Linked DNA regions of Homo sapiens: all the other regions are linked to region 3. Evidence: fine-mapped expression QTL. A gene starts in region 3. Each other region holds a variant in brackets. All regions are shown on one strand. Distances are between the middles of the regions.

Region 1 (8,101 bases), 67 kb after region 3:
GCACTCCAGCCTGGGCCAGTGAGACTATGTCTCAAAAAAAAACTTAGTAAATGCTTGTGGCTTACCATTATACATAAGCCTATGTTTGCAAGACAGTGTACCTTAAACAAAGACCAGGAATACTGTCATTTCCTGGACCCAGGAAAATTGGCCAGGCGCAGTTGCACGCGCTTGTAGTCCCAGATATTCTGGAGGCTAAGGCAGAAGAATCACTTGAGCCCTGGAGTTCAGGGCTATAGTGCGCTATGTTGATCTGGTGTTCATGCTAAGTTCCGCATCAATATGGTGACTTCTTGGGAGTGGGGGACCACCAGGTTGCCTAAGGAGGGGTGAACCTGCCTACGTTGGAAATAGAGCTGGTCAAAACTCCTGTGCTCATCAGTAGTAGAATTGCACCTGTGAATAGCCACCGCCCTCCAGCATGGGCAACATAGCAAGACCCTGCCTCTTAAGATAAAAATTGGAAAACACTGGTAGGAAAAAAAGGCTGTTTGGTCTAAATAAGTCTGGATTGGGTATAAATGACACAAAACTATCATGAATTTGAAAGCATTTCTAATTTCTTGAAAGTCTGAAAAAGTTTAAACAGAATTTTAGCTGAAAAGTCCTGAAAGACATTTGAAAAAAAACAGCAAGAACACTTAAAACTATTCAAGGTTTGGGCTGGGCACAGTGGCTCATGCCTGTAATCCCAGCACTTTGGGAGGCCAAGGCAGGCAGATCACTTGAGGCCAGGAGCTCAAGACCAGCCTGGCCAACATGGCGAAACCCCTTCTCTATTAAAAATACAAAAATTAGCCAGGCATGATGGTGCGTGCCTGTAGTCCCAGCTACTCAGGAGGCTGAGGCAGGAGAATCACTTGAAGCCAGGAGGTTGCAGTGATCCGAAATTGCACCACTGCACTCCAGCCTGGGTGACCAAGCGAGACTCTGTCTCAAAACAAAACAAAACAAAACAAAACAAAAAACTATTCAAGGTTTGGATCATTGAGGCCAAAATTATTTTGATAACAAGATGCCCCGTGTGAATGAAACTGAGTAATAGAAGGCTCATGGCCAGTAGTCGTAGCTACTAGGGAGACTGAGGCAGGAGGATCACTTGAGCCTAGGAAGTTGAGGCTGCAGTGAGCTGTGATTGTGCCACTGCATTTCAGCCTGATGACACAGCAAGACCCTGTCTCAAAAAAAAAAAAAAAAAAAAGAGAAAAGAAGGAAGCCAGGCACCCCATAGGCCCAGCTATTCAAGAAGCTGAGGCGGGAGGATTGCTTGAGCTTAGGAGTTCAAGTCTAGCCTAGGCAACATAGTGAGACCCTGTCTCTTAAAAATATACATATAATTTTTAAAAATTCTTTTATTTTTACATAAATGGAAACAGGGTCTCACTGTGTTGGCCAGGATGGTCTTCAACTCCTGGACTTAGGTGATCTCCCTGCCTTGGCCTCTCTTAAAGTGCTGGGATTACAGGCGTGAGCCACCGTGTCTAACCAAAAATAAATTTTTAAAAGTGTTTTTGGCCAGGCGTGGTGCCTGTAATGCCAACACTTCGGGAGGCCGAGGCGAGTGGATCACTTGAGGTCAGGAGTTCGAGACCACCCTGACCAACATGGTGAAACCCTGTCTCTATTAAAAATACAACATTAGCCAGGCGTGGTGACACATGCCTGTAGTCCCAGCTACTTGGGAGGCTGAGTGAGTAGAATTGCTTGAACCCGGGAGGCGGAGGTTGCAGTGAGCCGAGATCACACCATTGCACCCCAGCCTGGGCAACAAGAGCAAAACTCCATCTAAAAAAAAAAAAAAAAGTGAAGAAACTAGATCTGAAGCCTTAATTTTCTCCCCTATAAACAGGACTTAACGATACTGTCAGCTATCTTATTACCGCAAAGATTTAAAGAGAGACTATTGATACACGTGCTTTGTGCTTTTACCTTAAAGCACTACACAAATAGAAGGAGTTTCAGGACTGTCCCTTAAGGGTTTACTCTATTAACCATTTTCAAGTCCTTAAATTCCCTAGGAGAAGCAATTAAGAACCAGGCATCAGTAGAGTATGTTGAATTAAAAGGTTCTACAGCTGTATTTTGAGGCCTGGAAGAGACACAAACAGGACTTTCTATGGCTAGGCAGAGCAGAAGTCACCAGTTAGGAAAAATCCCCAGGGTCAGAAACCACCTCCCTGCCAAATTTGCCCTGCTGCCTGTTTTTGTATGGCCCACAAGCTAAGAATCATTTTGGTATTTTTAAATGGTTGAAAAAAATGGGCCGGGCACAGTGGCTCATGCCTGTAATTCCAGCACTTTGGGAGGCTGAGGTGGGAGAACTGCTTGAGCCTAGTAGTTCAGGACCAGCCTGGGCAACACAGTGAGACCTTGTCTCTACAAAAAAAAATTTTTTAATTAGCTGGGTGTGGTGACCTGCACCTGTGGTCCCAGCTACTTGGGAGGCTGAGGCAGGAGGATGGCTAGAGCCCTGGAGGTCAAAACTGCAGTGAGCTATGATTGCGCCCCACCCCCGCACTCTACCCTGGGCAACAAAGCAAGATCCTGTCTCAAAAAAAAAAAAAGAAAAATTTAAAACTTTAGTGTCACAAGTCTGATTGGAACACAGCTACGCCCATTTGTTTACTTATTGTCTATGGCTGCTTTGTGCTGCTACAGTAGAGAAGCTGCAACAGAGATGATAGGTCCTGCAAAGCCTAACATATTTATCATCTACTCCTGTAGAGAAAAAGTTTGCCCAACCCTCTACTAAAGCTAAAGAGGAGTCTCATTTTGTGATGAAAGAGGCAGGCAACCAATAGTCAACAGTAAGGAGGAGAGGAATGTAGCGATGGGAGAGAGGAAGGGTGACCTTGTTCCAGGGGAGATGATCTCTGCCTGTCTCATCAAGGGGAGGGCCTTTTAGCCTAGGGATCCCAGGGGTACAGTCTGCTCCTTTTTTTATAATCCCACCCTCTTTCCCCCAGTTTCTTTTCCTCTTCACTCAAAGTTCAGTGGAGCTATCTCAAGAGATTCAGGTAAGGCTCAGAAGAGTACAGCACACAAACATGCCGACCCAACCTAGCCTTCCTCCCCCAGCACAGGGCTCTTCCCAGGCCTCTCAGCACAGCTCTCCAGTGCTCACAGGAGAAATGCTCTGCTCTGGCCAGCTTCCAGCCAACTCTGCACCTCCCCTTCAGCTGGCAGAGCTGATGGCTCCCTGGCATCTGACTGCCATATCTCGTGCATACCTTGTTTTGGACTAATCTTATACATTCCTCCCTCAAATCCTTTCTTCCTTCAGACTCAGCCCTGAAACACCCTCTT[G/CTTG]AGTTTTCCCAGTCTCCTAGGTCAGGAAGCCCAAAAGTCAGATTCAGGGTTTATGCTGGCTACTTTGAGGTTAACCCAAACTTTTTCTGTCTCTTGTTGACAGACTTAGACTTAGGTACTTTCCTGAGGCTTTCTACTTCCTTTAGACGGTGTCTCTGCCCTTTAAAGCTGACAGCTCTTCATCACCTACCTGTGGCAAACCACCTCTACTTGAAACACACACCTCCCCAAACCATAATTTCTACGGTAGCATGATTCTCCATGGTTCAAAGAGAGGAGAGGGCTTCCTGGGTCAGTTTACTCTGGTGGGGAAGATGCTAACATGAAGTCTCTATTTGTAAACCTGGGGACAAGGGGAGAGCAAGGAATGAGAGAGGGTCTGGCTGGAGAGAATCTGGAGGGAGGCTCTCCTGGCATCTTGTTCTCTCTACACCCCACCACCCTCCATGTCCATCTAGAGTCTCCCACCAGAGCTCTTCTCTTACAGGTTTCCTGGGAGAAGGTGGCTTAAGGCTGAGACACTTATGCCCTGGGCCAGCCACTGGATTCCTGTGCTCTGCTTCACTCCTAGTTACCAGAAAGGTGGAATCTGGATGAGTGGAGGTGAGGAGAAGGTTCAAACTCTCCACCAGACCCATGCTGCAGCTGTGAGCACCTGCTTACAGGGAGGCCTGGGGGTTGGGGAAGTCCAGGAGCTAAATTTAGTCCAAAAGCTGCAACTTAAATTGGGTGGGTATTTACCCTGGGGAAGCTGGGAGGGGGAGGGGAGAGGAATCCTGACCCAGCTGAACTTGTGAGAGCACAGATCACCCCTAGTGTCACTGATACTCAAACCACAACCCCCTCCCCCAGCACACCCTCAGAAAGGAGGCATCCTCAACAATTTGCAGGCCTTTTGCATGCTTGATCTCTCTTGTGCATATCAAGTTTGTTCCTATCACCACCCCACCCTCATCTCAATTCTCAGGGGTCCAGTTCCTCTGAGTCCTTCCCTAAATTCCCACTAGTGCACCAAACCCAGGGGCCCTCCCCACATTCCTCTGCCCTCAGGCTGCAGCTTCTGCTCTCCCAAGTCCCCCCAGAGGGTTTCAGAGGTCAGCGAACAGGTGTCTGGCCACACTACTCCCCTCTACGGGGCCAAGAAAAGGGATTGCTTGGGGTCGGGTTCCCTTTCCTGAGAACTTCCGCATTGACCCCATAATGACCTCAGTGACCAGAGGAAGGAATCCTTAGGGGCTGCACTGAGTCCTAGCTCTAAAATAAGAGGGGAAAGGGAGCAGACCCCCAGAGGAGAGCCCACCTCCTGAGAGGTCAGAGGCTGGAGGCCGAGAGGGAGCTCATGGGCGGGCAGAAAGAGAAAGGGGGTGCTGAAGCCGGGGAGCCCTGCGAGGGGCTGCGACCGCACCTCCACCTGCGATTGGTTCTCAGGCTCAGGGCAAACGCCAAACCTGCCCAGCAACAGCCCTGAGCAGAGGGAGGGGAGCTTCGGGGAAGTCAGCTGAGCCGGCACCGCCCAGCTCTGGGCTTCCAGGAATCGCTGGGAGGGCCCCAGCCTCCACCCCACCCCTCCCTGGGTCTCAGGACTCTGCCTTCGGCCTTCTATACCTACTGGGCGGGCTCGGATCCCGTTTCCCTGGCCCCCCACATCTGTGATTCCCTGCTGAGGCCTCTTTAGGCTCAGCAGAGACGTTGGAACTGGGCTTTCCTTGTGGCCCCCTTTCCTCGCTCCCTGCCCTGGGCTGACGTCAGTTTTATCTTCCTTCTCCATTCCCTTTTGCCTCCTTCCCCACTCGCTCTCCTCTTAAGATGTCCAAATTCTTCCTTCTCAGCCACTTTCAACCCAGAGAAAGCCCGAGTCCCAAAGCAACAGGAAGATGTGCGGGGGACCGCGAGTGTGGGGACATCCTGCCGCCTCGGGCAACTCTGTCGTCCCCCACAGGGTTCAGGTGCTCAGAAAACAGCAGCCACTGAGTTCACTGTTTCCGCAGGCCCCGTATTCCCGGCCGTGCTCAGCTGGGCTTGTGGAGTCGCGAGCGGGGGCGCTCCTGCGGCACCGCCCCTCCTGGGCAGCCCGGCTTCCAGGAGAGACTCGGCCTCAGTCTCCGAATGGCAGGGGTCTGGGAGAGGATGTGATGGCAAAGGCCTGCCCCTCTCAGGCCGCCTCTAGCAAGTTCTCTACCTTGAGAGAAGCGAGTAGGAGGAGGAAGGAGGCCAGGCTGAGCCATCTCTGAGGAATGTGGCTTTGGCAGGACATCCAGTGCTGCCCCGCTCCTCCCTCAGCCCCGCCCAGGGCCCTGGAGCCGGGCCGGGCTCCTCCTCCTCCAGGGGAAGGGCTCGGGGCAGGAATCCCTTCCCTTTCCCCACCCCAGAAGAAGCCCCAGAGCGTAGGGATATGCGTACGGCAGAAAGGGAGACAGAAGGCAGGGCTAGAGAAAGGGAACAGGAAAAAAGAGCTTCGACAAGCCAACTGCCCTTCGCTCAGGCCCCAGCGGAAAGGCGCAGATACCCGGAGACTTCCCAGAGAGACTCGACCCACCAAAAAGCGCACCGCGGCCGCGCAGCCCTTCCTTCAGCTCTGGAACCCAGCGCCCCACACCTCAAATGGGAGAACTGGTGACCTCTAGTGGCCCATGACCAGCCTGCAGGGCCTGGGGCTGGCGGGGATTCTCTGACCCAAACTCTCCTGGGCTCTAATGCTGTTCCCCTGCCCACCCTACCTTCTGCCTTCACACTGCTGAGGGGTCCATAGCCGACAAGGAAGAGCTCATTTCTCATTTGTCATGACCATCTTTAATAAAAAATAAATTAGTTCTGGGTGGGAACCATTTCAGGAGGCAGGGAGTGGGGCTAGGGGCTGGGCGGGGTGGTGGGGGAGCGGATGCTCACATTTCTCTTTTTCACCCTCTGCCCAGCTGGGCCTTGCTCTGGAGAGGCAGTCTCTTTCCTCCTGCCTTCCTGAGTAAGGCAGGATTGGCAGTGGCTGACCCCAGCCCTAGCTAATTAGGGAGGCAGGGGCAGAGATACTAGGCAAATGAGAAGGGGTCAGAGACACAGGGCGGCTTAGAAGATGTGAGGTCTGAACATGAGAAATGAGGCTTAGGGCACAAAACTGGAGTTGGTGGGGAGACCACACTCTAAGTAGCTCAGATTAGCAAGGAACTGCAGACTTGCTTTCCTTTCCACCTAGGAAAGTCTCAAGGAAACAGGTCTTGTCCTTCTCAGTCTGTGTAACCTCTTTTTGAAAAGTGATACACGTTTGAGCACACACATATCCATGCAGTCCCAAAAGCACACCTGAGGCATATGTGCACACACCCATCACACCACCACATGGGCCTGACCACAGCCCTGAAAGTCACTTTGTGTCAGTCACCTTGCCACCCTCTGTCACCTGGAGGACATCCCTGCTGAGACTGGGACAGGCTGGAGAGCCAGGGGGTTCAGAGTGGGCCGATCAATGGGTGACCGATGGTGGCACAGAAAACCGTGAAGGTGCCCCGGACCCCTTTCAGGAGGGATCCTGGGGAGACCGCTCCAGGACATGTGCGCAAGAGCGGCAACAGGTGGCTGTGTAGTAGGGGTAGACGCAGAGCCGGGCCTGTACCACCAGGGGGCAATGTGGAGAGCTGTCCTTGCATTGATCATCTGGGGACAGAGGAGGCCAGTGGGCACAAGAGAGTCACCAGGACCCACCCGTCTGGGAATGGGTGTGCTGCCCATTCCCACTGGTCCTTTCTCATCTCCTCCCATACTTCAGCTAATCCACTGTATTGGGGATTGGGGAGAGGGGGCTCTTTACCAGGGCGCTGGCTGCAGGGTTGGCTGTTACAGGGGCGCTTCCTGGAGGGCCGCAGTTGAGGAGGGCATCGGGTGCTGAGGGTCTGGTTGGTGCTCAGGCACTGGACCTCCCGTGTCTGCGTTCCCCCTTGGCAGGAGCGAGAACACTGGGGCGACCCCAGCCATCATATCAGACCTTTGCCAGGCCCGGGATTCTCCTTAACCCCTGGCTGCCACCTCTCTCCCCAAAAGGTGGTGGTGGGGACCCTCCTAGGACATTGTGAAATCCCAAATGGAGAGGGCCCATCTTTCCTCCAAGTCTATAAGAAGTAGGACAGTGGTAACGCTTGGCTGGGCTTATTCTGGGGCACAGAGAGACCTGGAGGGGGTACAGCGAGAGGAGCTCCCCTCCCCTAGGGGCCCAGGCTGAGCAGGGCAGGACAGCGCAGCCAGACACTCACTGGGCTCCAGGGCGTGGAAAACCATCGGTCCTGGCAGGCCTGCCCTTGACAGGGCTGCAGGGCAGGGGGCCTGGGGAGGTGAGAACAGTTGCTCGGAGAAGTCACGTTGAACTCCGTCCCCAGTTTGGATACACAGATGATGTCTCTACGCTGTGTGCCAGAGCCACATTCGGAGGAGCACTAGTGTAGGGGGAGGGCAGGGTGATGAGGGGAGGGGAGGACAGAGAGCACCCCAAGTGCCCACAAGGAATCCCACTGGGACTGGCACCCCCTTCCTGCTCTCAGCAGGCGCTCAGCTTACCTCACCCCAGGGCCCTGTGTACCAGCGCCAAGTTCTCTCACAGGGCCCCAGGCTGCAGGCGCGCATGTCAGGGGGCCGGCTTCCTGTTGGACAGCTCTGCCCAGTTCCTGCTCCTGCTTCCCCCTGGCCTGGCCCGAGGGCTGCCCCACTCCCAAGGCAGACCACAGAGCGCCGCTGGATTCCCGTCCCACACTCGGCTGAGCACTGCGGAGGAGGAGAGCGGCCTGTGTGAGGGGCCTGCTGGTGACTGGCACAA
Region 2 (8,101 bases), 27 kb after region 3:
TGAAGATAGAAGGCCAGATGCAGTGGCTTACTCTTGTAATCCTAGCACTTTGGGAGGCTGAGGTGGGAGGATCACTTCAGGCTAGTTCAAGACCAACCTGGGCAACATGGTGAGACCTTGTCTCCACAAAAAAATTAAAAAATTAGGCCGGGCGCAGTGGCTCAAGCCTGTAATCCCAGCACTTTGGGAGGCCAAGGTGGGCGGATCACGAGGTCAAGAGATCGAGACCATCCTGCTCAACATGGTGAAACCCTGTCTCTACTAAAAATACAAAAAATTAGCTGGGCATGGTGGCACGTGCCTGTAGTCCCAGCTACTTGGGAGGCTGAGGCAGGAAAATCACTTGAACCTGGGAGGTAGAGATTGCAGTGAGCACCGAGATTGCACCACTGGACTCCAGCCTGGTGACAGAGCAAGACTCCGTCTCAAAAAAAAAATAAAAAATTTGAAAAAATTAAAAAGCCAGGGGCAGAGGCTCATGCCTGTAATCCCAGCACTTTGGGAGGCTGAGGCAGGCGGATCACTTGAGGTCATCAGGAGTTCAAGACCAGCCTGGCCAAATGGTGAAACCCCGTTTTTACTAAAAATACAAAAATTAGCAGGGTGTGGTGGTGGGCGCCTATAATCCCAGTTACTTTGGAGGCTGAGGCAGGAGAATCACTTGAACTCGGGAGGTGGAGGTTGCAGTGAACTGAGATCGCACCACTATACTCCAGCCTGGGCGACAGAGCAAGAGTAATACATCTAAAAAAAAAAAAAAAAAATTAGCCAGGCATGGTGGTGCATGCCTGTAATCCCAGCTACTACTCAGGAGGCTGAGGCAGGTGGATCACATGAGCCAGGAGTTTGAGGCTGCCATGAGCCATCATCATACCACTGCACTTCAGCCTGGGCCACAGAGTGAGACCCTGTCTCAAAAAAAAAAAAAAAAACAACAACAAAAAAGCGGAGATTGGGTTTATAAAAGAGCTTTCTTTGGAGAGAGCTACTACCATGCTGTGAGCCCTATTCAATCCCAAAGAGAAGAGGTGGGGAAGGGCCAGGTGAGGTGGCTGACGCCTGTAATCCCAGCACTTTGGGAAGCTGAGGCGGGCAGGTCACCTGAGGTTAGGAGTTCGAGACTAGCCTGGCTAACATGGTGAAACCCCGTCTCTACTAAAAATAAAAAAAATTAGCCAGGCGCGGTGACGGGTGCCTGTAGTCCCAGCTACTCAGGAGGCTGAGGCAGGAGAATCGCTTGAACCTGGGAGGTGGAGGTTGCAGTGAGCTGAGATCGCACCACTGCACTCCAGCCTGGGCAGGGGGAGCAAAACTCCATCCCCCACCCCAAAAAAAAGAGATGAGGTGAGGAGTAATTCTATCTTCTCAATCCTAGAGACAGTGGCTTCAAGACCACTGAAACATTTTGTATTTGTCCTTGGGTAAGGGATAATCATTAGACTGTGTATGACTCACGGTAGAGGAATTTCAAGGCAAAAGCTGACTAACAACAGAGCCTGATGTAACAAAGTAGAGAGTCACATCCTGGAAGTCACCACACTGGCTTCTGATAAACGGTCAGATATACATGAATCCTGTGGACCATGTGTGGAGCCAGTTTAAATCCTACTCAAGAGAACTGCCTGGATGCATAGTGGGGCTCTTCATGTGGAAAAGAACACTGGAAAACAAAAGGATAATGAGAGAGTGGTGGCTATAGAAATAGAATACATCACCTCACTTCAGGAAGTTGCCACTGCCTTTGGAAAGCGCCCCCAGGGAAGCCTCTGATGGAGCCATACAAATGCTCATGAGATAATTCTTAACATCAGCCAGGCCTAGACAGCATGAAGCCACTAATAACCCTTCCTCTTCATTCTGCCCCATTCCTAGAAATATCAGTGTAGCAAAAGGAGAGAAGCCAACTACCCCCTCTTTCACAGAGGCGAGCTGGCTGGCTCTGTTGACCCTAGCTGTGGGGTAGAGAGATTCTTACCTATGATGAAAATTGATGTGTTAATATATTTCGGACCAAGAGTATGTTTTGCTACTTAAAGTGGTTGCAAAGACTATTACCTAAAGGTGATCCACATCTGAGGAAAACCTCTCCCACTGAAATAAATTGTGCAGAGACAGGGGAAAACAAATTAAACTTTAATTTTCATTACATTTCTTCAGTTGGTACTTGTTAAGCATTCCAGTTATGGTCACCTTTGTATTCTCTGAGGCACTTAATTGGCACTCATGATATTGAGATTATTCCTTCCAGATTGTAGTATGTAACCTTCTGGTTAATATCCTCTCTATAATAAAACAAAAGACAGTTTTAGGGACTTAAATTTCAATAAATCTGGTTGAGGCCAAGGAACCAGAAATAAATTGAAAACTCAATTTATTTCAAGGAAACTTGAAATAAATTGAAATAAAGTTAGTTGGAAACTAACTTTAAGATAATCTAGTTCCAGGCCAGGCACGTGGCTTACCCTGTAATCCCATCACTTTGGCAGGCTGAGGCAAGCGGATCTCTTGAGCTTAGGAGTTAGAGACCAGCCTGGGTAACACAGCAGAACCCTGTCTCTTAAAAAAAAAAAAAATCTAGTTCCAACGAATGCCTCCTCAGTGAATCTTTTTCACAGTATCCCTGGAAAGTGAATATTTAGTCTCTTGAATAACTCCAGTGTCTTGAAATCTACTATCTTCACCCTCATGAAAACGTCAAGAGTTTGAGGACCACCTCTTTCTACATCTACTAGCCTAAACATTTTCCCTCCCTTTAGCTAGTCCTCCTTGACATAGTGTGGACTCCTGGCATCACCTTGTCTACTCTCTGGATGAGCTCAAATGTGTCAGTGTGCCTGTCTAACTTTGGTCCAGATGTGGCCTCACCAAGCCAAATAGAACTAAACCATTACCTGCTTGCTTGTAGACCTGGACCGTAGGAGAGCCCAAGGCCCCCTTAGGTTTTCTTTACTACTTATGCTACTGACTCATATCAAACTGACACCTAAGCTGGACATGGTGGTGCACACTTGTAGTCTTAGCTGCTCTAGAGGCTGAGGCAGAAGGTAGCTTGAGCTCCAAGAGTTTGAAACCGGCCTGGGCAACATAGCAAGATGCCCATCTGACAACTGACAAAAACCTACAGGTGTTATTTTCGGGGTAAGGTAGGGTTGTTTTGATTTCATAATAATAAATTAATGCATTAATTTTATACAACATATAACATTAAAAACCTTCATTCAAAAAAAAAACAAAACTACAGGTTGGACATGGTGGCTCACGCCTGTAGTCCTAGCACTTTAGGAGGCCAAGGTGAGCGGATTGCCTGAGCTTAGGAGTTTGAGACCAGCCTGGGCAACATGGTGAAACCCCATCTCTACTAAAATACAAAAAATTAGCTGGGCATGGTGTACTCCTATAGTCCCAGCTACTCGGCAGGCTGAGGCGGGAGAATGGCTTGAACCCAGGAGGTGGAGGTTGCAGTGAGCCGAGATCATGCTACTGCACTTCAGCCTGGATGACAGAGCAAGACTCCAACTCAAAAACAAAAAACAACAACAACAAAAAAAGCCGGTCGCATGGCACATGTATACATATGTAACTAACCTGCACAATGTGCACATGTACCCTAAAACTTAGAGTATAATAAAAAAAAAAAATTAAAAAAAG[A/CAA]AAAAAAAAAAAAAAAAGCCGGGCTTGGTGACTCATGCCTGTAATCCCAGCAGTTTGGGAGGTCGAGGCCGGCCGATCACTTGAGGTCAGAAGTTTGAGACCAGCCTGGCTAACATGGTGAAACCCTGTCTCTACTAAAAAAAAAAAAAAAAAAAAAAAAAATTATCTGGCCGTGGTGGCAGACACCTGTAATCCTAGCTACTGAGGAGGCTGAGGCAGGAGAATCGATTAAACCCAGGAGGCGGAGAGGCGGAGGTACGGTGAGCTGAGATGACACCACTGCACTCCAGCCTGGGCGATAGCGTGAGACTCCTCAAAAACGATGAAAAAAAAAAAAAAACTACAAACAAGGCTTCCTTGCCATTATTCCAAGTCCTGGTCCTTTCCTTCCAGAGATAAACACTGTTTAATATTGATTATATATCCTTCCAGCCCTTTTTCTATGTATTTACATGTAGAAATATATGGGAATTTTTTTTTTTTTTTAGACGGTCTCACTCTGTTGCCCAGACTGGAGTGTAGTGGCATGATCTTGGCTCACTGCACCCTCTGCCTCCCAGACCAAGTAATCCTCCCACTTTGGCCTCCAGAGTAGCTGGGACTACAGGCACATGCCACCACGCCTGGATAATTTTTGTATATTTTTTGTAGAGACAGAGTTTTGCCATGTTGCCCAGGCTGATCTTGAATTCCTGGACTCAAGCGATCTGCCTGCCTTGGCCTCCCAAAATGCTGAGATTATAGGCATGAGCCACCACACCCGGCTAGTTATATGAGACTTTTAAAACATAAATGAACCGGGCATAGTGCCTCACACCTGTAATCCCAGCACTTTGGGAGGCTAAGGCAGGAAAATCACTCAAGGCCAGGAGTTTGAGACCATCCTGGGTAACATAGTTTTGTGTCTACAAAAACTAAAAAATAGCCAGGTGTGGTGGCACACACTTGTAGTCCCAGCTACAGGGAGGCTGAGGTGGGAAGATTGCTTGAGCCCTGGAGGTCAAGGCTGCAATGAGCCATGATAGTGCCACTGGATTCCAGCCTGGGCAATAGAGCCAGACCCTGTCTCAAAAAAAAAAAAAAAAAAAAAAGTATCACATGGTTTGTATTATTCCAGATCTTCTTTTTACCCTTAACATGTTTCAGAGAACTTGCATCTCAATACATATAAAGATGTCTCATTCATAAGAACTGTTATATTGTATCCTATAGTATGAATGTATCACAGCTTACTTAACCATTCTGTTGTTGGACATATAGATTGTTTCCAATTGTTTGCTATTACAATGTTTCAGTGAAAATTCTTTATGCCTCTTAGTGCCATATGGGAGTATTTCTCTAGGGTAAAATATAAATATATATATAAATATAAATATATTATAAATATATATAAATATAAATATATTATAAATATATATAAATATAAATATATTATAAATATATATATATATAATATTGTTTTATTTTATTTTAGACAAAGTTTTGCTCTTGTCGCCCAGGCTGGAGTGCAATGGCATGATCTCTGCTTACTGCAACCTCTGCCTCCTGGGTTCAAGCGATTCTCCTGCCTCAGCCTCCTGAGTAGCTGGGATTACAGGCATGCAACACCACGCCCGGCTAATTTTGTAATTTTTTTGTAGAGACGGGGTTTCATCACGTTAGCCAGGCTGGTCTCAAACTCCTGACCTCAGGTAATCCACCCACCTCGGCCTCCCAAAGTGCTGGGATTACAGGCATGAGCCACTGCACCTGGCCTCTCTACGGTAAATATTGAAAGTTGCTGGGTCACAGGGTATGCACATTTAAATTTTTTTTTTCTTTTTAAAGGGACAGAGTCTTGCTCTGTTGCCCAGGCTGGAGTACAGTGACGCAATCTTGGCTCAATGCAACCTCCGCCTCCCGGATTCTGGCTCAATGCAACCTCTGCCTCCCGGATTCAAGCGATTCTTCTGCCTCAGCCTCTGAGTAGCTGGGCCTACAGGCACGTGCCACCATGCCCAGCTAATTTTTGTATTTTTAATACAGACGGGGTTTCACCATATTGGTCAGGCTGTCTCAAATTCCTGACCTCGTGCTCTGCCCTCCTCGGCCTCCCAAAGTTCTGGAATTACAGGTGTGAGCCACCGTGCCCAGCATTTAAAATTTTAATATGTACTTTTTGCAACCCAGAACTCATTGTTCAGTATGAGTTTTGATACATATAAGAAGGGATATTATGATACCTGAGACAGTTAACTGATGGGAGTATTGATAGCCATAAAGGTTGGTTCCAGGCCAGGTGCAGTGGCTCAAGTCTGCAATCCCCACACTGAGGTGGGTGTATTGCTTGAAACCAGGAGTTCAAGACCAGCCTGGGCAAGAAAGTAACAAACACCTCATCTCCACAAAAATTTAAAAACTAGCTGGGTATTGGGGCGTGTGCCTGTAGTTGCAGCTACTCAGGAAGGGGAGGCTGAGGCAAAAGGATTGAGCCCAGGAGTTGGAGGCTGCACTGAGCTTTGATGGCACCACTCTACTCCAGCCTTCGTAACAAAGACCTTGTCTCCTAAAAAAAAGATTGATTCTAGGACTGTAGAATAGATAGTTAAACAGCATGGGATATGAGGGAAATCCTCAGCAGTATTAATTTTGCATTCCAATTTCATGTTGATGAGACATACGATGGCTTTTTGTTTTAAAAGCTTTTATCTTGAGAACATGATGTCTGGAGTTAAAGGTATTGGCATATTCCACACATCTGTACTATTCTTGAGTGAGATGGCTTAAGGTGTCAAATTGATAACCTGGCAGATCCCCACGACCGACAGTATAAAGGACCCTAAAGTAAATTGGTTGAAGAAATTAGATCCCAAAGATTCTTGGTGAATTTTGAAGTCTTCATCAGTATATCCACATTAAAAGGAGACGACAGGAAGCCAAAGTAATTATGGGCTGACAGGACAACTGGATCAGTTTCATTAAAAAGGCTAACTTGAAGATAAATCTTTTGACTCCAGCTCTTTAGAGGATCTAAAGTGACCTTGATGGACAGTGGAAGAAATCACAACATGGAATTCCTTGAATAAAAATTTATTGACTTTAAATAATTTTGTCTATTGTTACATATCCACAATTTAAAAACTATTTACAGCCGGGTGCAGTGGCTCATATCTGTAATCCCAGCACTTTGGGAGGCCAAGGCGGGCAGATCACAAGGTCAAGAGATTGAAGCCATCCTGGTCAACATGGTGAAACCCTGTCTCTACTACAAATACAAAAATTAGCTGGGCGTGGTGGCAGGCGCCTGTAGTCCCAGCTGCTTGGGAGGCTGAGGCAGGAGAATCGCTTGAACCCAGGAGGCGGAGGTTGCAGTGAGCCAAGGTCATGGCATTGCACTCCAGCCTGGCAACAGAGCAAGAATCTATCTCAAAAACAAAACAAAACAAAACAAAAAAACAAACAAAAACCTCCTTACACTGTTGAAAAAAATTGTAATATGTACTTACAGATTGCCCTAAATTGATTTATATTCCCACCAACCTTGTAAGACTGCTATAGGCCATTTGCCCATACTTTTCTAATACTTGATATTAGATATGAGTGGTCATTTAATTTATTATTATTATTTTATTTTATTTTATTTATTTTATTTTTTTTTTTGAGACAGAGTCTTGCTCTGTTGCCCAGGCTGGAGTGCAGTGGCACAATCTCGGCTCACTGCAAGCTCCGCCTCCCAGGTTCACGCCATTCTCCTGCCTCAGCCTCCGAGTAGCTGGGACTACAGGCGCCCACCAGCATGCCCGGCTAATTTTTTGTATTTTTTTAGTAGAGACGGGGTTTCACCGTGTTAGCCAGGATGGTCTCGATCTCCTGACCTCATGATCCGCCCGCCTCGGCCTCCCAAAGTGCTGGGATTACAGGCGTGAGCCACCGCGCCCAGCCTATTATTATTATTTTAGAGACAGAATCTCACTCTGTCACCCAAGCTGGACTACAGTGACATGATCTTGGCTCACTGCAACCTCCACCTCCTGGGTTCAAGCAATTCTCCTGCCTCAGCCCCCTGAGTAGCTGAGATTACAGGTGCACACCACCATGCCCGGCTAATTTTTGTATTTTTTAGTAGAGACAAGGTTTCACTGTATGTTATCCAGGCTGGTCTTGAACTCCTGACCTCAGTTGATCCGCCTGCCTCGGCCTCCCAAAGTACAGGGATTACAGGCATGAGTCACCACACCTGGCCTGGTCATTTACATTTTTGCCAGAATGAAAGATAAGCAAAAGTTACACATGCACACATATACATACATGCGTGTGTAGAGATTATAGGTATATGTGTATGGGCATGTATGTATATACCATTTGTATTGTCCTCCATTTTAACTCCTTATTTTGCCCATATTTTTGTTGTCTCTCCTAAGTTATTTTTTAGAGACAGGATCTTGCTCTGTCACACAGGCTGGTATACATGGGT
Region 3 (8,101 bases):
AAACAAATTTGATGTCACATGGAAACAGGCAAAAGATATTGTACGACATTGCACCCAGTGTCAAGTCCTACACCTGCCCACTCAAGAGGCAGGAGTTAATCCCAGGGGTCTGTGTCCTAATGCATTACGGCAAATGGATGTCACGCATGTACCTTCATTTGGAAGATTATTATATGTTCATGTAACAGTTGATACTTATTCACATTTCATATGGGCAACCTGCCAGACAGGAGAAAGTACTTCCCATGTTAAAAAACATTTATTACCTTGTTTTGCTGTAATGAGAGTTCCAGAAAAAATTAAAACTGACAATGGGGCAGGATACTGTAGTAAAGCTTTCCAAAAATTCTTAAGTCAGTGGAAAATTTCACATACAACAGGAATTCCTTATAATTCCCAAGGACAGGCCATAGTTGAAAGAACTAATAGAACACTCAAAACTCAATTAGTTAAATAAAAAGAAGGGGGAGACAGTAAGGAATGTACCACGCCTCAGATGCAACTTAATCTAGCACTTTATATTTTTTAAACATTTATAGAAATCAGACTACTACTTCTGCAGAACAACATCTTACTGGTAAAAAGAACAGCCCACATGAAGGAAAACTGATTTGGTAGAAAGATAATAAAAATAAGACATGGGAAATAGGGAAGGTGGTAACATGGGGGAGAGGTTTTGCTTGTGTTTCACCAGGAGAAAATCAGCTTCCTGTTTGGATACCCACTAGACATTTGAAGTTCTACAATGAACCCATCGGAGATGCAAAGAAAAGCACCTCCACGGAGACAGAAACACCGCAATCGTGCGCCATCGACTCACAAGATGAACAAAATGGAGTCTCTTATATCTACTTCTTTCTACACAGACACAGTAACAGTCTGATCTCTCTTTCTTTTCCCCACAGCTGAGGCAGGAGAATCACTTGAACCTGGGAGGGGGAGGTTGCAGTGAGCCGAGATATCACATCATTGCACTCCAGCCTGGGCAACAAGAATTAAACTCAGTCTCAAAAAAAAGGACAAATGTATAATTTAAATCAATCGTTCCTTTAGCAATCATAGTTTTTACACATTATTCTTAAGCAGAGCTTGGAATTAGAAATAGCTTGATCAGAAAGTATTTCCCAAAAGAATTATTCATCTTTTAGATGAATCCCAAAGTGCTGGGGTTACAGGCGTGAGCCACCACATCCAGCCTCATTCGCCTTTTCTAAAAACATGCTTGAGTCTTGCCTATTCCCCAAAAGAAAATCTGCTGCTACAGCTCTGCCCTTTCCTTGCTTTACTGTTAAATATTGCTACCACTGTTCAATATTGGTACCACCTCCTCGCTCCTTAACGTCTTGCGATTGACCTCTATCACCTCCATCTTTAATTTCTGTATCACATTTAACATTGACAACCTGCCCTCCCTTTCTTCATTTGCTTTCCATGGCTCTTCTCTCTTCTAATTCTCTCCCTACCACTCTGATCATTTGTATGTCTTTTGCCAACTTTTCCCCACGTTTCTGTCTTGGGAGTTTTTTTTTTTTTTTTTTTTTTAAGAGACGGGTTCACTCTGTTGCCTAGGCTGGAGTGCAATGGCATGATCATAGCTCACTGTAACCTCAAACTCCTGGCTTCAGGCGATCCTCTCACCTTGACCATTCAAAGTGTTGGGATTACAGGTGTAAGCCACCGCACCTGACTGGAACCTCTTTTTTTCCTACATTCTCCTTTGTGATCCCATCAACTTCCACAACTTTACTTACATTTATGTGAAAAAGTCCAAAATTTGTACATCTTCAGCGTCTACTTTTCTCCCAAACTCCCACACTTACATTTCCTAGAACCCTTAAATTTCAGATATGGAGATCTTAGAGGTCATTTATCCTAAGTCTTCATTGCCTGGATGTCTCCACCAAATGGTTCATTCGCTTTTAATAAAGTCCATGTTTTCAGGCCGGGCACGGTGGTTCACGCCCGTAATCCCAGCATTTGGGAGGCCGAGGCAGGCAGGTCACCTGAGTTCAGGAGTTTGAGACCAGCCTGGCCAACATGGCGAAACCCTGTCTCTACTAAAAATACAAAAATCAGCCGGGCATGGTGGCGCACACCTGTAGTCGGGAGGCTGAGGCAGGAGAATCACTTTAACCCGCGAGGCAGAGGTTGTAGGGAACTGAGATTGTGCTACTGCACTACAGCCTGGGTGACAGAGCGAGACTCCGTCTCAAAAAAAAAAAAAAAAAAAAAAAAAAGTCCATGTTTTCAAAACTGAATGCCTTATTTTCTCTCTGCTTTTCAGCTCCATTCCCAAATTGACTCCTCTTCTTGAATTTATTGTTTCTATAAATAATCACCTTGAGGCACACAGTCTTCTCATTCTCTATTCAGTCAGCTGCTAGTCTAGTGGATTCCATTGTCACAGACTCTCTTGGTTAGGTTCACTATTTTCTATTCTTAACTACTACGTTTCTAGGTTAAATCCTAATTATCTCCCACCTAACGTTTGCAGAGGACTCGGCTAGACTGTTCATCTCTGGTAGTTTTCTGCTTGGAATTCTGAGTCTTTTTATTCATTACCACCAAATTATCTCCATAAAGAGCACTTCTTATCTGCCACTCTTTTTTTTTTTTTTTTTTTGAGACGGACTCTCACTGTCACCCAGGCTGGAGTTCAGTGGCGAGATGCGATCTCGGTTCACTGCAACCTCCGCCTCCCAGGTAAAAGCGATTCTCCTGCCTCAGGCTCCTGAGTAGCTGGGACTACAGGTGCACGCCACCACGCCTGGCTAATTTTTGTATTTTTAGTAGAGACGGGGTTTCTCCATGTTGACCAGGATGGTTTCTATCGCCTGACATCATGATCCACCCTCATCGGCCTCCCAAGGTGCTGGGATTACATGCGTGGGCCACCGTGCCCAGCCTTGTTTTGTATTTCTAGTAGAGACAGGGTTTCACCATGTTGGCCAGGCTGGTTTCGAACTCCTGACCTCAAGTGATTCGCCCGCCTACGCCTCCCAGAGTGCTGGCATTACAGGCGTGAGTCACCGCGCCCAGCCAGGCCTGTAAGCTTTCTAAGGGCAGAGACTGCCTTACTATACACGTACCCCCCCCAACTAACACAGTACCATCCACATACAGACAGACGCCCAGGAAATGTTAAACTGTAATTCTGGATAGGTTAACTAGTATTAACCGTATTTACCAAATGTTTACCACATACTTACACTGTCCTCCTTGTTTCAAGGAGCGTAGTCCCCAAGGGATCACCCTGATGGAATATAAAAACTACACATAAGAGTGAAACTACGGAACGTAAGCCATTAGTGTTTTGCAAGACAGCTCGGGTTGAGACTCAGTCTCTCTCTTCCACAGGCCAAGTGACACATCGTAATACCATTGGTACCGTTTTATTTTATTTTTCGCGACAAAGTCTCGTCCTGTCACCCAGGCTGGAGTGCAGTGGCGCGATTTCGGCTCACTGCAACCTCCGCCTGCAGGGTTCAAGCGATTCTCCTGCCTCAGCCTCCCAAGTAATTGGGATTACAAACGCCCGCCACCACGCCCGGCTAATATTTGTATTTTTAGTAGAGACGGGGTTTCACCATGTTGGTCAGGCTGGTCTCGAACTCCTAACCTCAGGTGATCCGCCCACCTCGGCCTCCCAAAGTGCTAGGATTACAGGCGTGAGGCACCGCGCCCGGCCTGTTAGTACTACTTTAAAATCGAATCTGACCTCCAAATCATTTTCTGGAGCTCGATCATTTTCTGCTAACACCGCAAAGCTTAATCCTCTCCACCTGAGAATAAAAGGTTCCATCCTTCCGCTCTCCAGTTTGACGCCCTGCTAAGTCTCTCGGACGCGGTGGGCTGGAGTGAAGGAAGCCGGAGCCCACCAAAGCTGCAAAAGTACCACAGCCAGCAGCCCCGCCCCCGATATCCCCCACAGGCTTCCAATTGGTCCTTGTGGCTCACTCTCTTTCCAGGTTGGTGTTCCAGCTTGCCGGTCGCCTCTATAGAGCCCACCTTTAGACGGCGACTATTGGTAGATCGTTACGTCATTGCCCTATCTACCTCACTCCCACTGGCTCTCATAGGAAGGGGCGGTCGCAACGTCACGGGCAAGGGCCGCCATTTTGACTGAGCAACCCTAGTGACAGGAGCCGAAGCAGCAGCGCAGGTTGTCCCCGTTTCCCCTCCCCCTTCCCTTCTCCGGTTGCCTTCCCGGGCCCCTTACACTCCACAGTCCCGGTCCCGCCATGTCCCAGAAACAAGAAGAAGAGAACCCTGCGGAGGAGACCGGCGAGGAGAAGCAGGTGAAGTGGAAGGGGTGCGGGCGGGCGAGCTGGGGAGACCGTGATGGGGCGGGAGACGGTCTCCCACCAGTGCGGATTGGTCGCCATGGTCTCAGGCTCCGCAGGGGTTGGCCACTTTTTGCGTCACGCTGGGTGAGCTTCAACACGACATGCTGCTTTGGCGCTGGTTAGTTGGGTCGTTTGTCACTCAGTACTGTACTCTTCCTGATTGGCCAATAGGCCTACCGCTCAAACCTTGGACGCTGTGCTATAATTGGCCGAGCATGGACGTGGGGCGGGTGGTTGGAAAGACGGTGAATGGAAAGGGGATGGCTGGTGGTCTTGGGTGTGATGTGTGTTATTGGTTTGTAGAGGTAAGTGACCCAGCAACCGGGCTGGGGCCCGCAGCCTCAATCCGCAAAGATAGGGGTCGAGGTAAAGACGTTTAAAAAAAAACCAGTATTGGGGGAGGGGAGAAGTGTAGTTATTATAATGGCTAGTTTAAGGCGGCAACTTTCTCAAGAGACCTATTTTAGTAGCTAAGGATGGTCTATTGCTCACCTTCAGTGAGGACCCAGCAATATTGAAGAGGGCTAGAGTTCCAAACAGAATCATGGTAATTAAACTTGGAAAAGACGCCGACAGGGTCGTGAGAAAGACACTTCTCTCTTCCCCTAGACTTCCAAGGCAGGGACTTAGTGCACCTGCGATTCCGTGATGGAAACACTAACGCCAAATAAACCCCTTATTGGGGTTTGTATTTGACTTTTAAAATTTAGTACTGGGTTCAGGTACTCATTAAATACACTTGGTGTTATATCTATGCGTAATTTCCAAGAGAAAGGAATATAATTCCACTAAAAAGAGTCATACGTTGACTTCATATCTTTTCAAAAAGTCACTAAAGGGCAGCAGGGACCACAAAAAAAAAAAAAAGAGATTGACTACAGTAGTGAGAGTCCCTGCACCACCAGGGTAGGTATTGATTTTTTTGATGAAAACTGGTGGGTAAATACTAGTGAGCCTACTGTATCTTTGTTTTCCTGAGGTTAAAAACAGTATCATTTTCCTCTCTGTTTATCAGCTTGCTACCATAATATTTGTGGAAATGTTGAAGCAAGGCTGTGCCATTACTCAGGTGGAGATCTTTGGAGAAGGCCACATAGCTAGCCGCCTCCACAGGGAGACCTAACAGGTGGCTTAGACCTTGAATAAAGAAGGAACTGCTTTGTCGTGTAGCAATTTTAAAAAAGAAAGAAAAAAATAAGGAGGAAACATTTAGCAAACTATTTTTTGTTGTTGTAGAGACGGGGTTTCAACATATTGCCCAGGCGGGTAGTGAATTCATGAGCTCAAGTGATGCACCTGCCTCAGCCTCCCAAAGTGCTGGGATTACAGGCATGAGTCACTGCTCCCAGCCCCAAACTATTTTTTTTTTAATTTCTCATGTGACATGTAGGATAGCCTAGGGAACCCTGCTACTCATCCTCTATCACCAGAAGCCCTGCTTTTTTCTCTTTGTCTTTCTTAGCATTTGTGCTGAGTGATATGGCCCACTCTGTGATTAAAGTATTGTGTTTAGTATTACCTTTAGCCCAATACGCACAGGTCCCTGGCTGGTTCCTTGGGTGAAGTGTGAGAAGCAGCTTGTCTTTTTCTCTCACAATAGTCATCTTGAGCTTTAGGGATTTTAACAAAGGTCTAGCTTTAACAGCAGAGTAGAGATAGCGTATTTACAAGTGGGTGGATTTCCAGGAGAAGTTGATAGTATAGTTGTTATCAGATGTGAGAAGCTGTTGTTTCTCAGTCTTTAATTTTATTTGGCTCATTTGTTTTCTCCAGGACACGCAGGAGAAAGAAGGTATTCTGCCTGAGAGAGCTGAAGAGGCAAAGCTAAAGGCCAAATACCCAAGCCTAGGACAAAAGCCTGGAGGCTCCGACTTCCTCATGAAGAGACTCCAGAAAGGGGTATGGGGCATAGTCTCTTACCCTCTTTCTTTGGAGCTAAAGGAGGTTCTTCGAATGAAGTCTGTAGAGGTTCTACTGGATCCTTTTCTGGAGGTTTTGTTGTTGAACAGAAGTAGAGGCGAATTTGAAATTTGAAAAGAGCAAGTCAAATTAATGTAAATCCCTGATGTGGTATCAATTCCCTCCTGATTTCCCATGTAGGAAATTAAGGCCTAAATTGGAGCATTTGGGTGTGTGGGGAAATGAGGGAAAGATGTTAGAAACTGAAATGCAGACTGCCCCCAGGCATTTGCCTGTTTGAATGTTGGAGGTTTTAGGATTGTGCACTTTTTAAGCATTAGAGATAAATTTTGGGATGCATCATTTCAGAAGAAGATCAAACCATCTCTCCTACAGAAATAAATCCTCAACTTGAAATGAATCAGTTTCTTCATACCCTTGAAGTGAGCACCAGCCATTAATTATACTCCTGCAGCAAATGTATTTTTCTTGTTCAGAGTGGTCCTCCTTACCAAGAGAGAGTCTACTTTCATAGCCATGTAGCTCCTGATCAGATTTTTAGTTCCCAAAGGTACCTAAAGCTGACTGAGGGATTATATTATCGTTTTTTAAAAAAAAAATTTGGCCAGGCGCAGTGGCTCACGCCTGTAATCCCAGCACTTTGGGAGGCCGAGGCGGGCGGAGCACGAGGTCAGGAGATCGAGACCATAGTGAAACCCCGTCTCTATTAATAATACAAACACTTAGCCGGGTGTGGTGGCGGGCGCCTGTAGTCCCAGCTACTCGGGAGGCTGAAGCAGGAGAATGGCGTGAACCCGGGAGGCGGAGCTTGCAGTGAGCCGAGATCGTGCCACTGCACTCCAGCCTGGGCAACATAGCGAGGCTCCATCTCAAAAAAAAATTTTTTTATTTTCCTTACTCTCCTCTGCAATGACTGTAGGATTATAAATCATTACATTGGAGTGTGCTTCTCTGTGCGGATGAAATGGTGGGTGAAACATCCCTGTGGAGGATCCCAGTTATTGAGTCTTAGTCACAGATGATAATGTGATGCTGATTTGCATTTACCTTGCTGGAGGCAAGGCAGGCGTGGGCAGGCTGTCACAGTCATGGAACATGTGTGGGAGCTGTGAGAGTCAGAAGGAAAATACATTATCCTCATGAACAGGCCCAGTTTCTATTCCTGGTCTGGGAGAATAATCATTTTGAGGTTGTTGGCTTGTGGTTGATCTCCTGGTGGCTAGGATAGCCCCATATTTATCCTTCTCTATATCTTATTCATTTCTGTTTCTCCAGTTCCAGGCTATTGCCCTGTACCCAGTAAGGTCCTCAGTTACCCTTTATGAATAAGTGATTTTGGTGGAACGATCCTCTACTGAGTGGAGTACAAAGGATGGCAGGGGCTATCCCTTGACTCCAAAACTATATACTCTAGCTGGGAAATTGCTTATGTACCTGAAAAAGTCAGAACACACTGGGGAGAAGACATAAGTACATGTAATTAATGTTAAACTGTGTATGCATGAGGTTAATCAAGGAAGACTTCTTGAAAGATCCGAGTGTGCATGAGGGTTTATAATGGATGTGAGATGTGAGTCTCCTTGTTTTTGAGGAAGGCCAGAGTCCTCACTCACCTAAACCTCCCTCTTATCTCTTAGCAAAAGTACTTTGACTCAGGAGACTACAACATGGCCAAAGCCAAGATGAAGAATAAGCAGCTGCCAAGTGCAGGACCAGACAAGAACCTGGTGACTGGTGATCACATCCCCACCCCACAGGATCTGCCCCAGAGAAAGTCCTCGCTCGTCACCAGCAAGCTTGCGGGGTAACCTGAGCCCCCCTCTCCTCCCCTTCCT
Region 4 (8,101 bases), 83 kb after region 3:
CACAGGCCTCTCATTCTGAAGAGCCGGGAAGTCCATCTGAAGTTCAGCTTTGAACACTGGAGAAGTGAGGCTTGGAAGCCACCCCAGCCACCAAGCCTGACTCTCTTTGCCCCCTTCTTCTCACTTTGAGTCCTTCCCACCCCTGCTCCTCATCCCACTCTTAGTTCTGCTTTCCAGGAAAAAAAAAATCTGTTTCTGTTGGATCTGAAAGGCACCCGGGAGAGGAATCCAGGGAGCCCTCGCATTGCTGAGGTGGGCCAGCTCTGGGGCAGAAAATGACCAAGAGAAGGGTAGGAATGTGCCTGGGGGCAGACACTCAGCCCCACTGCCCTCCCTGAGACCTAGGGTTCGGAATTTGAGGGAGGGGTCAGAGTGGCTGAGCCAGAGCGGGCGCCTCAGGGATTGGGGTTGGGGTGGGGGTTGCCGATGGCCACTCCTTCCCCTGGCTGGGCCGGCCACTAAGGTCAGCAACTCCACCCTGACTGAACGGGGGAGGCCAGGATCTCCAGAGAAGGGCCCATGTTCCACCCAAGTCTTCAGGCTCTGCCTGACTCTTGTTACTCCAGCTGAGGGAAGAAGAAATGGGGTGATAGTCACTGCCTGCCCCTTCTCTGATGCCGACCCCTCTTCATGCCCTCTCTGCCTCTGCTTCTCTCTGCCACCGAGATCTCTTCTCGCAGCCCCTCTCCACGGGTCTACCCAGTACACATAATCCCATCCCGAGCTGGGTTTGGCTTTGGCAGTTCCCTGGAGAAGTGAGGGGTGGGGGTGACGTGAGCTCCCGGGGCCCGGGCCAGGCCTGGCTCCCTCTCTGGAAAAGTCCCACCCCACCCTCCCCTGCGCAGCCCGGCAGGGGCCCATGCCCCCTCCTCTGCAGAAACACACGCACATTTATGCTTCTCACCCCTTTCCATGTCCCTCATTTGGTGTCGTTCCCGGCCCAGGACGAGGAAAGGAGAGGTCAGAGGTGGTCACTCTGGTGCCAGAGTAGACCCTGGTCTGGACAAACGCGGGCTCCTCCTGGCCACACCTCTCCACACTGCCCAGTGAAGACCAAGGAACAGAGACCTGCGCAGGGCTCACCCCTTCACCCCCAGGTCTCCCTGCTGGAGAGTGGTTGGACCCTGTGTTTCTGGGCCTAGCCATGGAGAATCCCTGTCCTGAGTCCGAATTCCCGGGCCCTCAGAGCCCTCCACTCCTGGGTCTGGCAGGCCACCCCAACAGGTGTCTTTCTTTTTTGTCAACCTCTTCTGCCATCGGGCTGAGCTGGATCAAGGGCACCCACCTGCGTCCCTCGCGGCGACCCTGTCCTCCAAGTTCAGGAGTGCAGTGGGGGACACACCGTCCGAGAGCACCCTCCTAGAGAGAGGGCAGGAGGCACCGGCCGCGCGGGGAGGTCATGGGTCTGTTTTCCAACTTTACTATGTGACTTAGGAGGAATTTTGGTTCACTCCCCGCCCGGGTGATGGGGCCAGAGTTCCACGGGATCAGACTCCCTCCCCAGGAATTCGACCCCAGGGGCTGGAAGATTGTCCGAGGCCACCGGAGCTGGGTCCGGGGTCGTGGCGGGGTCGCGACCGCACAGCGCAGGGAGAGGGGACGACGCGGGCGCGCGGGGCGGGCGGTCTAACGGGACCCGGGAGAGGGGCGGCCGGGGCCGGGGTCCCGGGGAGGTCTCTACCTGCTCTGCGAGCCCCCGGTGGCCCGTTAACCCTTCTGCGCCCAGGCGCTCTCTCCAGGCAACCTCGCTCCGCGGCGGCCACTGGGGCCCCTGAGCCGCGCTCCGGTCACGGCCGCCTCGGCCGCAACTCCGCCCTCGCGCCCGCCCCCGCCCAGCCCCGCCCGCCACGCGCCCCAGCCCGCGCCCCTCGGCGGCCCCGGGGTGGGGCCGGTCTGCCTCGCAGCCCCACTCGCCAGGACCACCCACCCCGGGCTGCGCGCCGGGCGCCCCCCGACGGCTGCGTGAGCTGAAGCCCGGGCTGGCCCAGCCGGGGTCGGAGGCTGCAGTCGCTCCCGGGCGCTGTCCTCGTGCCCGGCCGAGACTAGGGACTTAAGCAGCCCGGGCTGGCCCAGCCGGGGTCAGAGGCTGCAGTCGCTCCCGGGCGCTGTCCTCGTGCCCGGCTGAGACTAGGGACTTAAGCAACCCGGGCCTCCGAGCCGCTCGGGTGAGCGGTGCGAACACGGCGCGGCGCGGCGCGGCACAGGCGGGGCAGCCTCCAGGGGCGCCTGGAGCGAGGCGGCCTGGGAGAGCCGCTGGTCCGGGAGGGAAGCGCCCTGGACGGAGGTACCCGCGGCCCCCGATCCGCGTGGGTCCAGGCTCTCCCCTCCACGCAGCCTCCCCTGCAAACTCAGTCACTCCTGCCTCTCCCGTGTTGGGCAGTGGTGGTTCAGATTGCTGGGACTTCTATGAGCTTCGGTTTTTTTCCTCAGTAAGGTTTTACACTCGGGACTCAGCGAAAGGACAGCGTGCTGACTTCTGAGTCAGACTGATCTGGATTTGAACCTCAGCTCCAGCTCTTGCCAGCTATGTGGTCTTCGACGAATACTTCCACCCCTGTGTGGTGCAGTTTGCTCATCTGCAAAATGGGACTAATCTAATATATATGATGGGCTTGGATATGTCTCTTTATGCATTTATACATGGAAGAATGCACCCCAAACTCAGTAGTATTGGTGACATCTGGGGAGGGATGCAGGGTTGGGGGAGGACTGAAAAAGGCTTTTGCTTTTTACTCTGCGTTATGTTTATTATTATTATATTATTATTTATTTATTTTTTTTGAGACGGAGTCTCACTCTGTCGTCCAGGCTGGAGTGCAGTGGTGCTATCTTGGCTCACTGCAAGCTCCGCCTCCCAGGTTCACGCCATTCTCCTGCCCTAGCCTCCTGAGTAGCTGGGACTACAGGCGTCTGCCACCACGCCCGGCTAATTTTTTGTATTTTTAGTAGAGACGGGGTTTCATCGTGTTAGCCAGAATGGTCTCGATCTCCTGACCTCGTGATCCGTCCGCCTCGGCCTCCCAAAGTGCTGGGATTACAGGCGTGAGCCACCGCACCCAGCTATGTAATGTTATTTTTGTGAATTTTTTTAACCACAAGAGCAATCCATCTATTAGTTTTATCTTTTTTTTTTCTTTTTTTTTTTGAGATGGAGTTTCACTCTTGTTGCCCAGGCTGGAGTGCAGTGGCGCGATCTCGGCTCACTGCAACCTCCGCCTCCCAGGTTCAAGTGATTCTCCTGCCTCAGCCTCCCAAGTAGCTGGGATTAGAGGCATGCGCCACCATGCCTGGCTTATTTTATATTTTTTAGTAGAGACGGGATTTCTCCATGTTAGTCAGGCTAGCCTCCAACTCCCGACCTCAAGTGATCCTCCTGCCTCGGCCTCCCAAAGTTCTGGGATTATA[G/A]GCGTGAGCCACCGCGCCTGGCTATTATTTATTATAAATAATATATGTAAGCTGGGCATGGTGGTGAAAGCCTGTAGTCCTAGCTACTCAGGAGGCTGAGCGGGGAGGATTGCTTGAGCCCAGGAGTTTGAGGCTGCAGTGAACTATGATCGTGCCACTGCACTCCAGCCCCTGCGACAGAGAGAGACCTCGTCTCAAAAAATAAACACATAAATAAATAAAATATGTAAAATGGCTGGCATAGAGTAGACAATAAATGGTCACTGCTATTTTTATATTTTACTTTTTTTTTTTTGAGAAGGAGTCTTGTCCTGTCACCCAGGCTGGAGTGCAATGGCGCCATCTCAGCTCACTGCAACCTCTGCCTCCTGGGTTCAAGCCATTCTCCTGCCTCAGCCTCCTGAGTAGGTGGGATTGCAGGCACGAGCCACCACGCCTGGCTAATTTTTTGTATCTTTAGTAGAGATGGGGTTTCACCATGTTGGCCAGGCTGGTCTCGAACTCCTGACCTCATGATCCGTCCGCCTCAGCCTCCCAAAGTGCTGGGATTACAGACATGAGCCACTGCTCCCGGCCTATATTTTTACTTTCTATTTACTGACGCGTTGTATTTTGTTGGGTCTACTCAGTGTTTTAAAGGTTTTTGTTTGTTTGTTTTTTGTTTTTAAGACAGGCTAGTTTCAAACTCCTGGGCTCAAGAAATCCTCCTTCCTTGGGCTCCTAAAATGCCGGGATTACATGTGTGAGCCACTGGGCCCAACCTAAAGGCACATTTTTTTTTTTTAAATAACTTGTCAATACGTATTTTAAAACCTGGATATTTTAAAATTTCTCTTGAAAAACTAAAACACAAAAATAGAAGCTCTAACAACATTGTCCTGCATCCTCACAAAATATCAGAGGTCTTTGGTTCCCCACCTGTCATTTTTTGGGCGCCTTTTGCACTTGGTGTTGAAGAAGCAGCAAGAAGTCTCTGGCCTCAAGGAGTTGGGTCTGATCAGGCACAGACACGGCAGGTAATGGGGTCATGCGAAGGTTAATACTGGGCTCAGCTGAAGGAGATGTTATCTCTAAGAAGATGATGGATATGAAAACGTAAAATGCTTTCAAAATGTAGGAATTGGGCCGGGCGCGGTGGCTCATGCCTGCAATCCCAGCACCTTCGGAGGCCAAGGCGGGCGGATCATCTGAGGTCAGGAGTTCAAGACCAGCCTAGCCAACATGGCGAAACCCCATCTCTACTAAAAATACAAAAATTAGCCGGGTGTGGTGGTGGGCGTTTGTAATCCCAGCTACTCAGGAGGCTGAGACAGGGAGAATTGCTTGAACCTGGCAGGCGGAGGTTGCATTGAGCTGAGATCATGCCACTGCACTCCAGCTTAGGTGACAGAGCGAGACTCTGCCTCAAAAAAATAAAGAAAAGAAAAGAAAATGTAAGAATTGTGTCCCGAGCTGGGTACAATTGCAGGCACCTGTAGTCCTGGCGATTCGGGAGGCTGAAGTGGGAGGATCACTTGAGGCCAAGAGTTCAAGTCCAGCCTGGGCAACATGGCAAGACCCCATATCTAAAAAAAAAAAAAGAAGAAGAAAAAAGAAAGGAGAAAAAGAATTGTATCATTATTTGAAATTTAACATGCATATTTTTTCTCGGTAAATCACTAAGTTCTTTCAGAATAAAGGACTATTTATGCTACTTTGTATCATCTATACTTTTTCCTATTTTATATTAGAGTTTTGTTTTTTTGATAAGTCACTGAAACAACAACAACAACTTGAAAACACGAAGTACACCACGAAACATGAAGCGGGTCAGATTGACCTGCGCCTCTGGGAGGTGCCTCTCCTCATCCTCCATCTGAGTCCTGAGTTCCTACATGGGTTGAGAAGATAAAAGGTTAATGCCCCTCCCAGAGGGGTGGTTTATCTAGGGACTCCTGGTGACAACCTGGAGACATATTTATAGTGCTAGCTTTGAAGGGGAAGCCCCTTTCCCCAGACCTCAGAGTATGATATAGATGATGAGAAGCCCAGCCTTCCGGGCAGAGGAAGATATTTTGGGCCAGGGACCCTTCAGTCCTGGCCCAGTCACACCTCATCAGCATTCACTTATCTACAGGGAGGGAAGCTGCAGGACAGGAGTGTGGGAGGGGAGCCTGGGAGGAGAGAAAAGGTCTGCCTTTGACATTTGTAACTGCTGAGAACTGAAGGTCAGATACAGTCCTTTCCACTAAGAAATGGCTGCTCACCGAAGAGCTCATGAGATTTGCTACTGCTGTCACCTCTCATGGCTTGGTGGTCTGAAAATATTGTAGAAAGAAAAGAGTTTCCTATGCCTCAGCAACTTGTGAAATACCAGATTAAGTTTGTGGACACTGTCTCCAGGATAAAAAGTTTTTAGGCTGGGTGCGGTGTCTCACACCTGTAATCCCAGCACTTTGGGAGGCTGAGGTGGGTAGATTGCTTAAGCCCAGGAATTTGACACCAGCCTGGGCAACATAGCAAGACCCTGTCTCAAAAATAAACAAATACATAAATAATTTTTAAAAAGAAGTTTTTAAGGCCGGGCACTGTGGCTCACACCTGTAATCCCAGCACTTTGGGAGGCTGAGGTGGGCGGATTACCTGAGGTTGGGAGTCCAACACCAGCCTGACCAACCCTGTCTCTACTAAAAATAGAAAAGTAGCCAGGCGTGGTGGCGCATGTCTGTAATCCCAGCTACTTGGGAGGCTGAGGCAGGAGAATCACTTGAATCTGGGAGGCGGAGGTTGCGGTGAGCTCAGATTGCACCATTGCTCTCCAGCCTGGGCAACAAGAGTGAAACTCCGTCTCAAAAAAAAAAAAAAAAAAAAAAGAGAGACGTTTTTAAAAAGATTATGTAATAAGTAGATGTTCATCCAGCCTGTAATCCCAGCACTTTGGGAGGCCGAAGTGGGCAGATCGCTGAGGTCAGAAGTTTGAGACCAGTCTGGCCAACATGGTGAAACCCCGTCTCTACTAAAAATACAAAAATTAGCCAGGCGTGGTGGCAGGCGTCTGTAATCCCAGCTACTCGGGAGGCTGAGGCAGGAGAATTGCTTGAACCCGGGAGGCGGAGGTTGCAGTGAGCCGAGATCGTGTCATTGCACTCCAGCCTGGGTGACAGGGCGAGACTCCATCTCAGAAAAAAGAAAAGTAGATGTTCATCCAAAATTATCTCTAAAGATTGGACAGATAAGGAAAAAAAGAGGGGACAGGCTGACATTGGTCTGACTTTGAGCTCAACATACTGATTTAATAATAATAATATAGCTAACATGTATATAGCACTTACTTTGTGCCCCCGACCGGGCTGTTAGAAGAGCTTTACACACATTACCTCACTCTGTCCTCATTGTAACCCTGTGAGGTGGAGACTGTTACACCATTTACAGATTTGCAAACAAAGACACAAAGACAAATCCACTAATTTGTCTCTAATCTCTCAGCTAGAAAGTGAGAGAGCCAGGATTCTAAATTAGGCGCTGTTATTTGTATACATTGTATGCAAATAAAATTTCCAGAAATTTAGCTGAATTTACTTAATAATTTTTTCCCCTGGCAGTAGCATAAGGAAGTTTTATAAATTAAATAACATTTTGAATGAATGCCTCATATAAGACGTTGTCCCTATTCCAAGATAATGCTGATGCTAATACCAATAATATGTACAGTTGGGGCCCAGAAATGAACATGCAGCTGTCTGTCTTTAGGTTTGTGGTCATAGCAACCATTTTCGGAAAGCCTGGTGTTTGCTTTTCTGCCTCTCCGAATCATGGTTGCTCAACTCCTTTGTTCCAAAACAGACACCCCATTCCCAATTGCTGCGCGCCAGGCTGGCTTCCAGCCGTTGAGTCCGTGTCCTGTCATGCTGTCTCCACTGTTTTGTCTCACTGATGCTGTTCTTCTGACCATTCCGCTTTGGCTTGACGCAGCCGCCCATACTAGGCAGCTGCTATGAGAGCAGCCAGTGGTGACCTGTGCTCTTCCAGGGACTGGAGGGTGAGACCACCTTGCTGTGTTTACCTTTGTATTCACCACCTCACTCTGCACACAGTAGGCATTTAATGAATGTGTGTGGGGTGAGCACTGCCTCAGCTCTGGCCACATTCCAGCATTTTCTGGTTGTTGTCCTGCCCCATCACGGCCCAACTGCCTTGCACCTGATGAAATGATGAAGAAACAGGATGTGATCCATTTGGTACGATGAGGACCAAGACATGAATGGGATATTCTGGTCTCCCAGTCACCGCTATGTAGACTTTATTTCTTTATTTATTTTCTTTTTTAAAAAAGATATACTCGGTCAGGCGCGGTGGCTCACGCCTGTAATTCCAGCACTTTGGGAGGCCAAGGCGGGTGGATCACGAGGTCAGGAGTTCAGGACCAGCCTGGCCAACATAGTGAAACCTCGTCTCTACTAAAAATACAAAAATTAGCTGGGCATGGTTGAGGGCATCTATAGTCCCAGCTACTCGGGAGGCTGAGGCAAGAGAATTGCTTGAACCTGGGAGGCGGAGGTTGCAGTGAGCCGAGATCACGCCACTATACTCCAGCCTGGGCAACAGAGCGAGACTCCATCTCAAAACAAAAAACAAAAACAACAAAAAAAGATATACTCCTATATTTTTTTCTTTTTTTTTTTTGAGATGGAGTCTCGCTCTGTCGCCCAGGTTGGAG

Evidence for each region. PIP is the estimated chance that this variant, and not a neighbour inherited with it, causes the effect.
Region 1: its variant is fine-mapped to the expression of ENSA in whole blood (TOPMed, PIP above 0.99).
Region 2: its variant is fine-mapped to the expression of ENSA in whole blood (INTERVAL, PIP above 0.99).
Region 4: its variant is fine-mapped to the expression of ENSA in whole blood (TOPMed, PIP 0.99).

What each region holds. Positions count from the first base shown.
Region 1 is chr1:150,558,910-150,567,010 of GRCh38, reverse strand. It overlaps ADAMTSL4 (ADAMTS like 4), which reads right to left. Exons shown (of 19, transcript NM_019032.6): 16 at 7,846-8,049; 17 at 7,545-7,724; 18 at 7,106-7,250; 19 at 6,078-6,951. The coding sequence ends at 6,815. It overlaps ADAMTSL4-AS1 (ADAMTSL4 antisense RNA 1), which reads left to right. Exons shown (of 4, transcript NR_104133.1): 3 at 3,794-3,909; 4 at 5,789-6,116. It also overlaps the pseudogene RN7SL473P. Among named protein-coding and RNA genes, the nearest start is that of ADAMTSL4-AS2, 5.2 kb to the right of the region's middle. RefSeq lists enhancers at 3,565-3,614, 3,885-4,164, 3,513-4,366, 4,367-5,218, 5,045-5,224 and 2 more. The variant G/CTTG (reference allele first, on the strand shown) is at 3,307.
Region 2 is chr1:150,598,301-150,606,401 of GRCh38, reverse strand. It overlaps LOC107985203 (a long non-coding RNA gene), which reads right to left. Exons shown (of 3, transcript NR_186818.1): 3 at 2,118-2,282. It also overlaps the pseudogene LOC124900445. Among named protein-coding and RNA genes, the nearest start is that of MCL1, 23 kb to the right of the region's middle. RefSeq lists enhancers at 934-1,772, 7,916-8,101. The variant A/CAA (reference allele first, on the strand shown) is at 3,649.
Region 3 is chr1:150,625,611-150,633,711 of GRCh38, reverse strand. ENSA (endosulfine alpha) reads left to right here and starts at 4,100. Exons shown (of 4, transcript NM_004436.4): 1 at 4,100-4,298; 2 at 6,120-6,245; 3 at 7,904-8,070. The coding sequence starts at 4,242. LOC112268239 (a long non-coding RNA gene) reads right to left here and starts at 3,893. Exons shown (of 2, transcript XR_007066603.1): 1 at 3,210-3,893. RefSeq lists enhancers at 2,436-3,405, 3,406-4,373, 4,116-4,385, 7,006-7,537.
Region 4 is chr1:150,543,080-150,551,180 of GRCh38, reverse strand. ADAMTSL4 (ADAMTS like 4) reads right to left here and starts at 1,773. Exons shown (of 19, transcript NM_019032.6): 1 at 1,682-1,773; 2 at 1,286-1,359. LOC124904417 reads right to left here and starts at 891. Exons shown (of 1, transcript XM_047438226.1): 1 at 1-891. The coding sequence starts at 891. The coding sequence ends at 121. It overlaps ADAMTSL4-AS2 (ADAMTSL4 antisense RNA 2), which reads left to right. Exons shown (of 6, transcript NR_187269.1): 6 at 2,431-2,617. RefSeq lists enhancers at 1-567, 6,874-7,374, 7,375-7,875, silencers at 1,903-2,042, 2,213-2,362, 2,294-2,588 and a cis regulatory region at 5,061-5,780. The variant G/A (reference allele first, on the strand shown) is at 3,406.